Linked DNA regions of Homo sapiens. The protein of the gene in region 1 purifies or fractionates together with the protein of each later gene. This does not show direct contact. Each region holds a gene or a part of one and is shown in the gene's direction. Other genes may lie near its edges.

The links.
Region 2: the proteins of SPACA9 (region 1) and RIOX2 purify together in Homo sapiens (affinity purification with mass spectrometry; 3 studies listed by BioGRID and IntAct, with this or other methods). This does not show direct contact.

The regions. Positions count from the first base shown.
Region 1 is NC_000009.12:132,881,892-132,888,927, forward strand, and holds part of SPACA9 (sperm acrosome-associated protein 9), read left to right. Parts: intron 1-2,019; 5' UTR 2,020-2,056; coding exon 2,057-2,200; intron 2,201-5,477; coding exon 5,478-5,680; intron 5,681-6,398; coding exon 6,399-6,720; 3' UTR 6,721-7,036. UniProt on the Homo sapiens protein: Microtubule inner protein (MIP) part of the dynein-decorated doublet microtubules (DMTs) of multiciliated respiratory cells and the distal singlet microtubules of monoflagellated spermatozoa.
Region 2 is NC_000003.12:97,948,430-97,955,465, reverse strand, and holds part of RIOX2 (ribosomal oxygenase 2), read left to right. Parts: intron 1-970; coding exon 971-1,074; intron 1,075-3,213; coding exon of another isoform or gene 3,214-3,271; exon of another isoform or gene 3,272-3,314; intron 3,315-3,324; exon of another isoform or gene 3,325-3,856; coding exon of another isoform or gene 3,857-3,948; intron 3,949-4,577; coding exon 4,578-4,680; intron 4,681-5,450; coding exon 5,451-5,622; intron 5,623-7,036. UniProt on the Homo sapiens protein: Oxygenase that can act as both a histone lysine demethylase and a ribosomal histidine hydroxylase. Is involved in the demethylation of trimethylated 'Lys-9' on histone H3 (H3K9me3), leading to an increase in ribosomal RNA expression.

The DNA.
Region 1 (7,036 bases):
CCTCACCTCACCCTAGTTGGTCCTGGGTGAGCCGGACACCACGGGAGGCACAACAGGAAACCACTGTGCGTGAGTCAGCATGTCTGCTCCATGTGGCAGGGACCAGCCAAGGATATGGCAGGTGTCAATAAACCATGGACCCCCCATCTCATTCCCCACCTTCAGCTCTCCTTTCCATAGGAGGTTGAGCTGGAAAGAGGCCCCTGCCCTGCCTGCCCTGGCCCAGGCCCACCCCCAGGGCAGCTGCGACTGTCCCTGTGTCTGTTGACAGTCACAGTGCTGTGGCTCTGCTGCAGAAGCATACTCTCTTGTCTTTCCAGGAGACTCACTCAGTGGCTCTTAAGGTGGCTCCTCTAAGGCAGCCTTGCTGGCTTTTGGCTCCAGGGATAGAGGCTCCATGGCTGGGCTCCATCTTGCTAAAGGGCCTCTTCCCCAGCCTCCTCCAAGTGCTCTGATGTACCACCCCCATCATCTCGCGGAGGCCATCTCCTGGTCTGTTCTTGTGTTTCCTTTCATTCCTCTGATGCCATCTCTTCTTGCATCAACTGGGATGCTCCCCCTACCCTGCCTCTTTTTTTTTTTTTTTTTTGAGTCAGGGTCTCCCTGTGTCCTAGGCTGGAGTGCAGTACTGCGATCATGGCTCACTGGAGCCTTGACCTCCTGGGTTCAAACTGGACCCCCAGCTCCAGCCCTGCTCTGGACACAGCAGAAAGAAATATTTCCCAGCCCCGTCTTGTTATTCCTATCCACCTGGGACCTGCTTGGAAGCTTGGAATGTGCCTTCCCTGCCCCAGTCCATGCTAAATGTTCTGGCCCCTTCCATCTCCAACATCTCCCTTGGACTGGACCTGAGCTCAGCACAGCCTTCTCTGACCCCTGCTCATGTGGTGACACGTTCGAGCCTGGCCTTTGTTCTGGAGGCAGTGGAGGGGCAGCCGAGTGTGGCAGCACTGACGATGCTGGTTAGACGTAAGGAAGCCTAGGACCCAGGGTGTCTTGGGCACAAATTTGCTGTGACACCCTGGGCAAAACCTTTCCCTCTGAGCCTCACTTTCCCCATAGCAGCTCAAGGGAGCTGGTTTTCTCAGTCCCTTCCAGCTCTAACATGAATAGAAATCTGTGGTCTGGAGCATTTTGCACGCGCTCAGCAAAACTGTGATGTCATGGAGCACACACCCACAGACTTTTCTGCTCACAGGAGGATTGTAGATGCTCTGTGGAGCACCTAAATCACAGCAGGGACAGTCTGTGAGGCGCCAAGAGAGAGTCCTCCCCACAGCCTCCATGTTACTGATCATGGCATTCCAGCAATTAACAGGGTCAGGGGGCAGTCCACTAGCCACCAGCCCTGCCCTGAGAATGCGCAAACCTGAGACCAAGGCTCCTGCCCCCAGCCCAGAGCAGGCAGACTTACATCTTCTCAAACTAGACAGTCTAGTATTGATTCTTCTCCCCGCTTAATCCATGGGAAGGAATTCCCAGACTTTCCCACCAGTTGCAGAGCAGCTTTACAATAATTTGATCCAAACTGATCATCTCCTGGTTTTATATCCTGTGGCATATCCCTTGATCCCAGGTTTTGCTGACACCACAGCAAGGGATTGGAGGGCGTGTGTGTACACGCGTGCGTGTGTGTGTGTATGCATGTACCTGTATGTGTGTGCACATGCATGTGTGTGCGTGTGTGTGTGCGCGCGTGTGTGTAGATACCCACATCTGGAGAAACAGAACCAGAGAAACTCTGTCCACAGCTGAGGGAAGAAGTCACATTTCCTGGCAAAGAATGTGTTCATGGAGGGTAAATTTCGAGGTCAGGCTCAGCTCTGTCATGGACAGCCTGGGGGCTCTGGACAAGTGTGCAGCCTCCCAGGGCCTCGCTTTCTTCTGTGGGGAGGCACTCACAAGGCGCTCCAGTGAGAGGGGCCATGGGTATCCCTCTCCCCTGACAGTCCTTCCCTCCGGAGCTGGATCCGAGCATTGGGTCCCAGGACCTCATCACTATCCTCTGTCTCCCCATAGATTCCTCTTCTCCTGTAAATGACCACAGAGGAAGACAATGAATGAGGTGAAAGAATCCCTTCGCAGCATCGAGCAGAAGTACAAGCTCTTCCAGCAGCAGCAGCTCACCTTCACCGCCGCTCTGGAGCACTGCAGGGAGAACGCCCACGACAAGATCCGGCCCATCTCCAGCATTGGACAGGTGGGGCTCCCGACCCCCACCCCGGCCGAGGGGCAACAAGCCCAGTCCCCTCTCACAAAAGATGAAACCACTGGGGCCCAGAGAGGGGAAGGACGTTTGCGCCAGAATTAGGACCCGGACCCAGAACCTAAATGATGTAATGAGTCCTTCATTCGTTTCTCTACCAAATATGTAAGTGAATAACAACAAGTGAATAAAGAGGCAGGTTTAAAACTCAGCCGGCCAGGGCTTAAGTCCTAGCTCTACCATGTGCCACTGCTGTGATCTCAGGCCAATGACTTCACCTTTCTGTGCCTCAGTGTCCTCATCTGTGACGCAGGTTCAGTGGTCACCCATAGAAAACCAGGGATTTACTGGTGACCAGAGGGATCCTGTCCTTCCCATCAGATTCCACTGGGGGTTGAGGAACTGTGGGATGCCAAGCACACCGCCAGGTGCTTTCGCAGATGTTTTTATTTAACCTGCATCTCCTCCAGGGTTAGCTGCTGTCCAGGTTTGCTGTGCAGGACTTGGAGGCCTCAAGACCAAATGATCCTTCCAGGATGTTAGGGGCTGGAGCTGCAGTGCAGTTAGGAACACACACAGGCCGGCCCTTCACAGCTTGGAGGGAGTCAGCTTGTGGAAGGGTAACTGCCCCAAGATGGGTGGGAACAGGCGCAGGGCTCAGAACTGCAGAGGAGAAACAGGCTCGGGAGGAACAAGCAACCCTTGCTGGCAGCATCCTTTAAAAACATTTTTTTCTGGCCAGGCGTGGTGGCTCATGCCTGTAATCCCAGCACTTTGGGAGGCCGAGGCAGGTGGATCATGAGGTCAGGAGTTTGAGACCAGCCTGACCAACATGGTGAAACCCTGTCTCTACTAAAAATACAAAAATAGCTGGGCGTGGTGGTGCGCATCTGTAATCCCAGCTACTCGGGAGGCTGAGGCAGGAGAATTGCTTGAATCTGGGAGGTGGAGGTTGCAGTGAGCCGATATTGCGCCACTGTACTCCAGCCTGGGCGACAGAGTGAGACTCCGTCTCAAAAACAAAACAAAACAAAACAAAAACAAAAACAAAAAAATGAAAAAAAACACTTTTTTTTTCTAATTTTGGTAAAATGTTTCCTCAATTTTTTAACTCAAAAAAATGTTAAATATAGAGGCCAGACACAGCGGCTCATGCCGGTAATCCCAGCACTTTGAGAGGCCGAGGTGAGTGGATCACCTGAGGCCAGGAGTGGAGACCAGCCTGGCCAACATGGTGAAACCCCATCTTTACTAAAAATCCCAAAATTAGCCAGTTGTGGTGGTACGCGCCTGTAGTCCCAGTGACTCGGGAGGCTGAGGCATGAGAATCACATGAACCCTGGAGGCAGAAGCTGCAGTGAGCCGAGATCGCACCACTGCACTCCAGCCTGGGTGACACAGCAAGACCCTGTCTCAAAAAAAAAAAAAAAAAAAAAAAGTTAAATGTACAGAAAAGGAGCACCCATATAACCCTCACCCAGATTCACCGACTTGTGACATTTAGCCAATTTAGCCATATTTGCCCACGCATGCAGCCCCTGAGCTATTGGAAAATAAACTTCCTCTTCTGTAAACCTGGACTTCGGGGGAAAAAAGAAAAGAAACTGCCTACATCCTTTTTAGTCCATCCTCCAGAAGCTTCAAAAGTCAACAAGTGTCCCTTCCCAGAATCTACATCCATGCATAAGGGAGTGGCCTTCTTGCCTTAGGTTCAGCCGAAGGCTCTTGGTAAACAGTGGCCTTGTGTTCTGAGTTGCCTCACCCCTCCCCTGCCCTCCCTGAACCAGAAGTGTCCAAAGGTTCCCTGCACACCGCCCCCCACCCCCGCAATGCTCTGTTGTAGTTACACCATGGGGCAGGTTCCTCCTCCTCGACCCCTACAGGTGCCTTTGTGGGTATGAGTGTGAAGAGCCTCTCCCCCTTACGAAGCTGCTTGTGCATGGCAGTCCTTGGGAAGGAACCACTTCAGATTGTTTGGGGAAACATCCCCTAGCAACAAAAAGACAAACGGTTACAGCAAGAAAACCCTGATTTAGATGTAGACCTTTGTGGGTGCTGGAGGAGGTGATACCTGCATCTGTCATCAGATTGTGGAGAGTAGAACCATCTGACTACGAAATGGGTCTGTTCATCTGGCCTGGACCACAGCCAATTCCTCCCTAGCTCGAGATCAGACCTCCGGCTCTGGCCCAACCTCAGATGCAGTCACTGGGTAACCCCATAAGCTCCACTTACTGGCCTGCCCCTCCTTCTCCACCTTGTGAACACAGTACGGCTGAAGCCCAAAGGATTCCAGTCCCTGCTGTTTCCCTCTCAGTATGGGTGGCCCACGCTGGAATTTCTCACAATGAACCCTCTAGAAGTGGGATGACAGGCACTGTGGCATTAAGTCAGGGGGCAGCCCCCTTTTGCTTTAGGCGGTGGTTGGTTCAGGTGGCAGGGGACAGGTGAGGGGTAGGGCACGGAGCCACTGAGCTGGGGACACCCAACTAAGCCACTGGTGCCCTGGGCGGGTTATTTCACCTCTGCAAACCTCCAGTGTTCATGTCATGGTACTGATCTGTAAAATGGGAATTTAAAAAGGTACCTGCTCAGTGTGTAGGGTTTAGATGAAGACAGGCGAGAGCAGGCCCGTAAAGCATTTTGCATGGTGCCTGGAACACTTGATTTTATATCCATCTATCTATCTACCCATCCATCCGTCCATTTAATTTAATTAATTTTTTGTTTTTGAGATGGCATCTTGCTCTGTTACCCAGGCTGGAGTGCAGTGGCATGATCTCGGCTCACTGCAGCCTCCTCCTCCCGGGTTCAAGTGGTTTTCCTGCCTCAGCCTCCCGAGTAGCTGGGATTACAGGCACGTGCCACCACGCCTGGCTAATTTTTTTTTTCCTAGTAGAGATGGGGTTTCACCATGTTGACCAGGCTGGTCTCGAACTCCTGACCTCAAGTGATCCCCGCCCACCTCAGCCTCCCAAAGTGCGGGGATTACACGTGTGAGCCACTGTGCCCAACCGATCCATTAATTTCATATCATATCTATCCATCCATCCATCCATCCATCCATCCATCCATCCATCCATCTATAGAGAGAGAGATACCACTATATAGAGTGGTCTGTACCTTAAAATGCTTAAGCGTTACTTGCGTCTCCCCCATGAGTCATGTAGGGTGGGAGGGAGTAGGGTGGGTGCTTCTGGACATTTGCACCATAAGCCAGCCAGGACCCGGGTTGGCATGTCCCCAGCTCATGTGGCGGCGGCCCTTGCAGGTGCAGAGCTACATGGAACACTACTGCAACAGCTCCACAGACCGGCGGGTTCTGCTCATGTTCCTGGACATCTGTTCAGAGCTGAATAAGCTCTGCCAGCACTTTGAGGCCGTGCACTCTGGCACCCCAGTCACCAACAACCTCCTGGAGAAATGCAAAACCCTCGTTAGCCAAAGCAACGACTTAAGCAGCCTCAGAGCAAAGTAAGTCCCTCTGATGCTGCTCTTGAGGCCCCGTGTGTGCCTGTGGGGAGGCCTCTGTCCTGCTTCTTTCCTGTTGCCTGGATCATGGTGCTCCTATTAGACCACCCCGGGCAGGAAATCCCAGTCTCCACTCATTTATTGGAATGACTCGGATTCAACAAAACCTTTTCTTTACAACCATCGTAGACATGGCAGGACACCAGGTGTCTCACGGGTGTTAGCACCAGGCAGGTGGAGAAGGGGGTGTAGAGCCCAGAGCAGTTGCCCCCAGAAGCCCACAGAGATCCTCACTGACATGCAAAGAAGTGGACACCAGAGCCGCCTCCCAGGGGCAGCAGCACTGGCACTGAGGGCTCCTCATCCTGACAGCCCGGGAGCCTGCAGCACAGTGGGCCAGAGCCTGGGGAAGCTCTGTAGATACCAGGGTGAGAAGAGCCAGAGGGATGAGCCAGCCAGTTCCTCACCCCTAACCCAGGTTTCTACGGACCATGGGGCAGTGGTTTGCATCTCCTGTCTTTCACACCAGAATTACCTGGGGCTTGTGGCACCCCAGGCCTGGTCTGCCAGAATCTCTGGGGACAGAGCGCCTCAGCGTGCTGTGTGTCCAGTTCTAAAGCCTCCCCAGGTGACTCTGCTGTGCCTGAGGTGTGGCAGCTGCTTGCCACGGCATGGCAAGTCCCGGGAGCATGGGTTCACCTGGCCCCCTGCCGTCCTGCAGATACCCTCATGATGTGGTGAACCACCTCAGCTGTGACGAGGCCCGGAACCACTACGGCGGCGTGGTCAGCCTCATCCCCCTCATCCTAGACTTAATGAAAGAATGGATCGCCCACTCCGAGAAGTTGCCGCGCAAGGTGCTGCAGCACGTGAGTGAGCCCCAGGCGCACCAGGAGAGCACCAGGGGAGCCGCTCGTCCTGCCCAGGCCATAGGGACCCAGCCCAGGGCCACTAAACACAAGTGTAGACAGCTCACAAAAGCCAGCCTCAAACCCAGGGGATGTTCAAAACCACCCTGGAGGCCTCCTGGTGGGAAATTGTAACTCAGAGCCAGGAGCTCCGTCGGCGGAGAGCTTTGCTGTTTAATTTGGATTTTACTGGTTGGTCCTTTTTTCACTGGTACCCATGGACCCTGCCACTTACTAACCCCAAGGGAATCAGCCAATATATTACTGAGACTTCCTCTCTCTCTTCTTGCTTTAACTTCTTTTTTTTTTGAGACGGAGTCTCGCTCTGTCGCCCAGGCTGGAGTGCGGTGGCGCAACCTCGGCTCACTGCAACCTCCGCCTCCCAGGTTCACGCCATTCTCCTGCCTCAGCCTCCCAAGTAGCTGGGACTACAGGCGCCCACCACCTCGCC
Region 2 (7,036 bases), on another chromosome or scaffold:
ACTAGACTACCTCTTGTAGTTGCAGAGAGAAGATGAGCTGCCCTCAAGATTCCCTCTTTTCTCCATAGGTAGCTGCTACATGGAATATTTTGGCCTGAGTGGGATTGGGAAGGAGGCAGCTCAGGGCAGGAGTAATTTGGGGAGAATGTTTTGGTCCACCCACTTGGAATAGGGTAGAGGAGGCTCAGCTGCCCAAGAAAATGATGAATTTTTGATTACATCTTATTTTTCAGTTGAAATAGGGATTGTATAGTTTTTCAATTCATCCCAACATTCATTGAGCCTGTGTTGAGTGCTAGGTGCTTTGCTAGGGTAGGCTCTGGGAAAGACAAGATGGTAAGATACAGACCCTGCGCCTAGAAGTACTCAAAAATTATCAGGAAGTGGGGGACTGGCGGATAAAATCATATAATCCAATCACATGCCCATCATTGCCCTAAGAGCTTGGAAGCAGCATCTCTAATCCTCAAAATAATCCTGTAAGGTTTGGGGCTATTAAACTTCATTTTACAGATAAAGAAACTGAGGCTTTGGGCAGGTAAATTGCCAGATCATCAGCCAGTAAGTGGCTGTGTCTGTGTGACTCTAAATTCAAGCTCCTACTCTTAACCACTGAAGCATGCAAGAGGGAGGAAGCAGGCGTCCCAGGCACAGGATGTTACCTTCCTTGATCCCTGCATCAGGGCAGGGTAGTCTCAGGTGAGTCTAGTCTCAGCTTGAGAATGAAAAGATAGTGACTTCAGGCACCGAGAGCCTCTCGTGGATCATGGTTAACAGTGACAGGCTCACGGACACAGAGAAGCTAGACTAGCTGCACACGACATGAGCCCAGCATATAGACTGTGCCTTGAGGTTGTGGTTTCTAGAATGGAGAACTGAGACTCAAAGCCCATATTTATCTCCCTGAAATGAAGAGGACTGAGAAGGAATACTTATTAACTTCTCTACCCTTTCCTATTCCTTCCTTTAGCCGGGTGATTTGTTGTACTTTCCCAGAGGAACCATTCATCAAGCGGACACTCCTGCGGGGCTGGCCCACTCTACTCACGTGACCATCAGCACCTACCAGAACAAGTAAACACTGCCTCCCAGCTGCACATGCTAGGACAGCTCTGAGTCCTGGCCTGCAGCAGCCACATTCAGGAGGGATATGAGGGAGTTGGCCCCTACCTCCTATGCAAACCCCAGGGTTTATGTCCTTTACTGACTTCCACATTCCTTTGATGTCCCATGTATGTGACTGGTCCCTCTGGACTTGCTTCTGGGGACATCATGAACCTGACTCTGTAGGATGTGGGGCATTGCCCAAATAGAGAGTCACATAGTTTGGAAAGAAAGAGACTAGCTGTGGGTACATCAGTGTGTTAGTGATGCCAGGCTGGGCTCATACTCTCTCTCTTTTTTTTTAATATGATAAAATATATAGAACATAAAATATACCATTTTAAACCATTTTAAAGCATAGTTTGACATTAATTACATTCACACTCTTGTGCAGCCATCACCACTATTCGTTTCTAAAACATGTTTATTCCAACAGAAACTCTGTACCCATTGAAATCTCTTGGTCTCTTTGAGGGTTTCTCTTTTTACAGTCCATGAAGTTAAAGTAGGACAGGCAGTCTGGAACAGCAGGAACTAAAGTGCATGTGCTGACAGCAGTTCCAATTAAAATCATGTTCATTTCAGCTAGTACCTCCTCACTGGGTGGCAGTGCTGTGTGAGTTATATCCAAAAAGCAGCAACCTTGCTGGTCCAAATCATATTTAAAAATACTAATCATGGCCAGGCGTGGTGGCTCACTCCTGTAATCCCAGCACTTTGGGAGGCTGAGGCGGGTGGATCGCTTGAGGTCAGAAGTTTGAGACCAGCCTGGCCAACATGGTGAAACCCCATCTCTACTAAAAAAAATACAAATATTAGCCAGGTGTGGTGGTGTGCACCTGTAATCCCAGCTACTCTGGAGGTTGAGGCAGGAGAATCACTTGAACACAGGAGGTGGAGGTTGCAGTGATCCAAATCACGCCACTGCACTCCAGCCTGGGCGACAGAGCGAGACCCTGTCTCAGGAAAAAAAAAAAAATACTAGTCATGAGTTAATGTGTTAAACAAATATGTACTAGACATTGTGTTTGTTGCTGGGAATTCAAGGATTTTATCGAAGGGGTTTTGAGAGAGCTTATACTTTGGAATTGGTTGTAGGAGAAGAGATGGTGTGATAAATTCTATTGTAGGTTTGCAGAGGAGACTCTTGGAGCATAGAGGAATGCATTTAGCTAAGTAGGGGCATTAGAGAAGCCTTCAGAAATGACACCAATGCTGAGTGAGTCTTAAAGGATGAGTAAGTAGGGGTGGGTCAGCAGATCAGAGTAGGAGAGGACATTCTAGGTCCAAGGGACGGCAAGTCACCTCCTACCTTCAGGGCCAGAACTTGCAAAACAAGTTAGTAAGCATACCTCTGCTTCCTCATCAGACTTTTCAGTGTGAATTTCACCTCTACATTTAAAAGACTTACTGGAGGAATTAGCTGAGGCCTGGCCCTAGTTTAGTGCTATCTTTCCCACAAGTAGAAGGCCCAAGTTTGTATTAGGCTTCCATTTTGAAAAATGCCCTCATCACTTTGGCTAGGTAGGTTCCTTGCATTTTAAGGGACAGAAAGTCACCAAAGCCAGCTCAAGAAGTGCAGGGTCACTTGAGGGAGTGAGTCCTAGAAACTCCAGGCTACAGAGAGGCTGGAATTAGAAGTCCATTCTGGATTCAGAGCAGTTCTGGACCACATAGTTTGGCCCTTTGAATATCCGTGCATCTGTGGGTGTCCCATCGTTAATGTTTCTCAGGTACTCCCTTTCTGTAATTCTCTTTTCCATTTCTCTTGCTGCTACCAACTGGTTTTCTAGTGACTGGTGTTTTCTCCCTTCTGTTCCTTCTTCAGCTTCTGTTTACTCATAACATTAGGCCATCACCAGTTGCTACTCTGACCTCCATCTCATTGACCCTGTTAGCTTTTGCTTCTGCTAAGGACCTGACTCACTCTCTGTTTCCCAATCCCAAGAGTGAGGAACTGGCCGGCTGCCCCTGGGTCCTATTCATTTCTTCTCTTTTCAGCTGGGGCTGGGAAGAGCTTCCTAAGTTACAGAAGTTGCCTGCTTAGGATTGTGGGTGGGTACCATGATCAATGTGTCCAGGCTGGATTTTGACCTGTGTCTTGGACAGTGATGCTGGAGCTAGAATGAGAAGATGTGACTTGAGGGCCATTGCTCCCCAGAAATGATCCTGTGTTTTGAGCCTAATGCTCCTTCAGGTACCATGTAAAGGTGAATATTTGGGGCCTCTTCCTAACACCTGTCAAGGTAGCATTGTTGGAGTGTTTGGGGGTCTGCTGTATGTTGTTGATTTGGTTGTTTTACCAAAGTGGACCCTTCAAGAGATATTCCTAAATTGTGGGAAGTCCCAATATCTATTCTGACTCTTAGAGGAGCACTATTTAACTTCTACTAAATTCCTCCATGAGCTGTTGCTGTATGACTTCCACCTACATAAACCTGCAAAGGAAGCACATATTGTATGGTGCTGAGAGATCTGCATGTGCCCTCCGGGTTGAGACTCAATTAAAGATGCAGGGTTGGATATAACATTAAGTCACAAAGCAGTGAGGCCGCCAGGTAGTAGATGTCTTGGGAAAAGTGTCTCTCATGTGGCTTTTGTCCTCCTTTGCAACTTTTCTGGGAGGGAAGCATAACAGTGTTAATTTTGCTTACTGAGTGAGAAGTAAAAGTCATACTGTGAATTTCCATTTTCTACTAGCCGGCAATTTGAAATCTGCTGGTGACACAGGAAAATTTTAAATAGCTAAGAAATGTTTAAAGAGAGCATCCCCACAGAGTGCATTTCTTACACCGGCACGCACTTAGGAATGAGCCAATTCCAGATACCCCAGAGAAAGCAAAGGTAATTGAATAGGGATATTTGTCCCTAGATGTTATTTTTAGTCACTGGCTTCTATCCCCCGGTAAAACCACTGCTAGACATAATTGTTTTGGAATTATTGATGGTAGATATTTTCTTTAGGAGTAGCATCCCTTGTAAGTGACAAGGAAAATGTAACATACAACTGTTCAAATAATTACACAATCCAGATATCTTGCTGTTACCCCAAATTTGTTGTATTTATTGCACATAAAATTTGGTTTTAGATCCTATAATGACTGTTTAAATTTCCTACAAATCTCCCCTCATAGACACTTTTGTTAAAAATTTGGTCCATTGAACTTCCTGTTTTATGAAAGTCTATGGTTAATTTTCTGAGAGCTTTTAAGAGAAATCAGTATTGAAGCCTAGCTTCCCACTTTTAACTTTGCAAGTGAGTGTCTGGAACGGGGAGGGAGGAAACAGGGTGGTTGATGAAGGTCTTAGATTTCCATGCTGAGTAATGTCCAATTAATGGAACTCAAAATGCCTGGACAGGGAAGCCATAATCCAATTTGTAGCTTTTGGCTTTACTAGCAATAAGTATTTTATGTATATTTCGTATGCACTCACTGTTTTGGTTTTTTTTTCCCCCTTGGTGCATATCCTAGTTCATGGGGAGATTTCCTTTTGGATACCATCTCGGGGCTTGTATTTGATACTGCAAAGGAAGACGTGGAGTTACGGACCGGCATACCCCGGCAGCTGCTCCTGGTAAGGAGTAAAGGCAGGTAGGAATGAAGGATGGTAGCTGCAGCCCAGGCCAGCTGAAGTCCTACCTTAAGGACCCCAGGATACTTCTTCCAACATGAGCCAGGCTTGTCTACTGTGCTGCACTGCTGAGCTGTGTGACTTGCAGAATGAGTGGAGTGCCATGTGTTATGTGGTGATCCAAAGAACTGTGATGTTGTACAGACAGCTCTGTATTTCACAGTGGCAGTAGCAGGCAGTGTGAAAATGTTGGTTGAGTAAATGAATAGTACGGCCAGGAGAACTGTAGATTTAGCACACATCAGATTACTAGTTAAGAGAAACTCACTGTACTGGAGATCCTGGCCTCGGTGTATTCGTTGGCCTCCTGTTCTTTTATTACATTTTGAAACAGGAGTGTTATTTGATTAGTTTTGAGATGAGTGGATTAGAGCTGAGTTGAGCAAAGGTTGCTTTCTCTGAAGCATTCATCTTAGGACAGTGACCTGCTTTCCAAAAGGCAGAGCTCAGACTGTACCATATTTCCAAGGATCTCTATTTCTAGGCAAAATTCTGAAAATTTTTTGCAAACAATAGGCAGCTTAGAATTAACAGTGTTTATAAGGAAATGATGAGATATCATTCTTAGGGGCTCAGGTTGTCCCTTCCCCTTTGGAATGACATGGATTAATGTCTATACCCGGTGGCTGGCAGTTTTGCAGTCTACTGTGGAGACTGAGCTGGGCAGTAAGTTCTGCTGGCATCTGGGCCAGGACTCACTTCTGTGTTCCTAGCAGGTGGAATCCACAACTGTTGCTACAAGACGATTAAGTGGCTTCCTGAGGACACTTGCAGACCGGCTGGAGGGCACCAAAGAACTGCTTTCCTCAGACATGAAGAAGGATTTTATTATGCACAGACTCCCCCCTTACTCTGCGGGAGATGGGGCAGAGCTGTCAACACCAGGTGGAGCTTGCTGTTTTCTTCTGGGTGGTCAGAGGCTAATGCAGGATGTTTACGGTTTTTCTGGGTAGGCTCCTTTTTGAACAGATGGAAAGTATGAAGTGCTTTCGTGTTAATGTGGACCACATCCATCCTTAGTGAATATGGGCAGACGAGATGTGCTGCACTCAACCTTTAGCAACCTGTATCTTAGAAGTCATTTGGAAAGAACTTGTATCCCACCCTGATGGGAAATAAGAGCCCTGTCCTTTTGGGTGAGAAATATGTATATTTATAGGTACTCTGGTATTCATAGTCTTCAGGAAGTTTTCAAAATTTGAACATTGAAATAATCTTGTTGGAATTAAGTCAGGGTTGGGTTGTCTTTATTTGTGTTGCTTAAAGGAATACCTGAGGCTGGGTAATTTATATAGAAAAGAAGTTTATTTGGCTCATGGTCTGCAGGCTGTACAAGAAGCATGGTGCTGGTATCTGCATTTGGAGAAAACCTCAGGCTACTCACAGTGGAAGGGGAAAGGGAGCTGGCATTTGCAGAACACATGGTGAGAGAGGAAGCAAGAGCGAGGAGAAGTGCCAGGCTCTTTTTAACACCAGCTGTCATGGGAACTAATGGAACAAGAAGTCACTCACCGCCCCCAACCCCAGGGAATTATCTATTCATGAGGGATCTGCTCCCCACAATGTGACCCAAACACCTCCCCTTAGGCTGCACCTCCACACTGGGGATCAAATTTGAACATGAGATTTGGATGGGACAAACATCCAAATCATAGCATGGGTAAAATTGTTACCATCAGCCAGTGAGATTCAAGAAATGTCCAAGATTATCATCAACCTTCTCCAAGGCACAGGTGCCTAATTTATGACAGATTTAGGCTGCAAATGATATAACATACTTTTGGATGGATGATGTCATTGATGACTTCCAGATGGATGATGTCAGTATCCTATAGCAAAGACCACCAAGAACATACTCCTGAATTCAGACGAAATTGGATTTATTGACTTGTTGCAGTGGGAAGACCACACACCATTGAGAACTGCAGGGCATCTCAGTAAAACGGTGTTAGAAAAGACTTATAGGACTCAGGTGTATGTTAGGTGATTTTGGAGAGGGTTCAAGGAAGCAGGGCTTTGCTCTGGATTGGATGCTGTCAGGAAATGGAAGGGATTCTATGATTAAGTCTCCTAAATGTTATCTGGTAGGCAGGAGGAATGTATGAGGCTGAAGTTATCAATGGTAAAGCGGAAGTGGTCACTCATTAGCCAGAGTAGGGGGATGTTCGGTCAGTGTTGTGGTTTGGAATATGTTCTTGCCTTGCCTGAGTCCAGACATGAGTATGTACGGAGTGGTGGTGTTTTGTTTTGACCTATCATGGTGACAGTGATCTCTGATGTTAGCATTCTGTGGAATTGC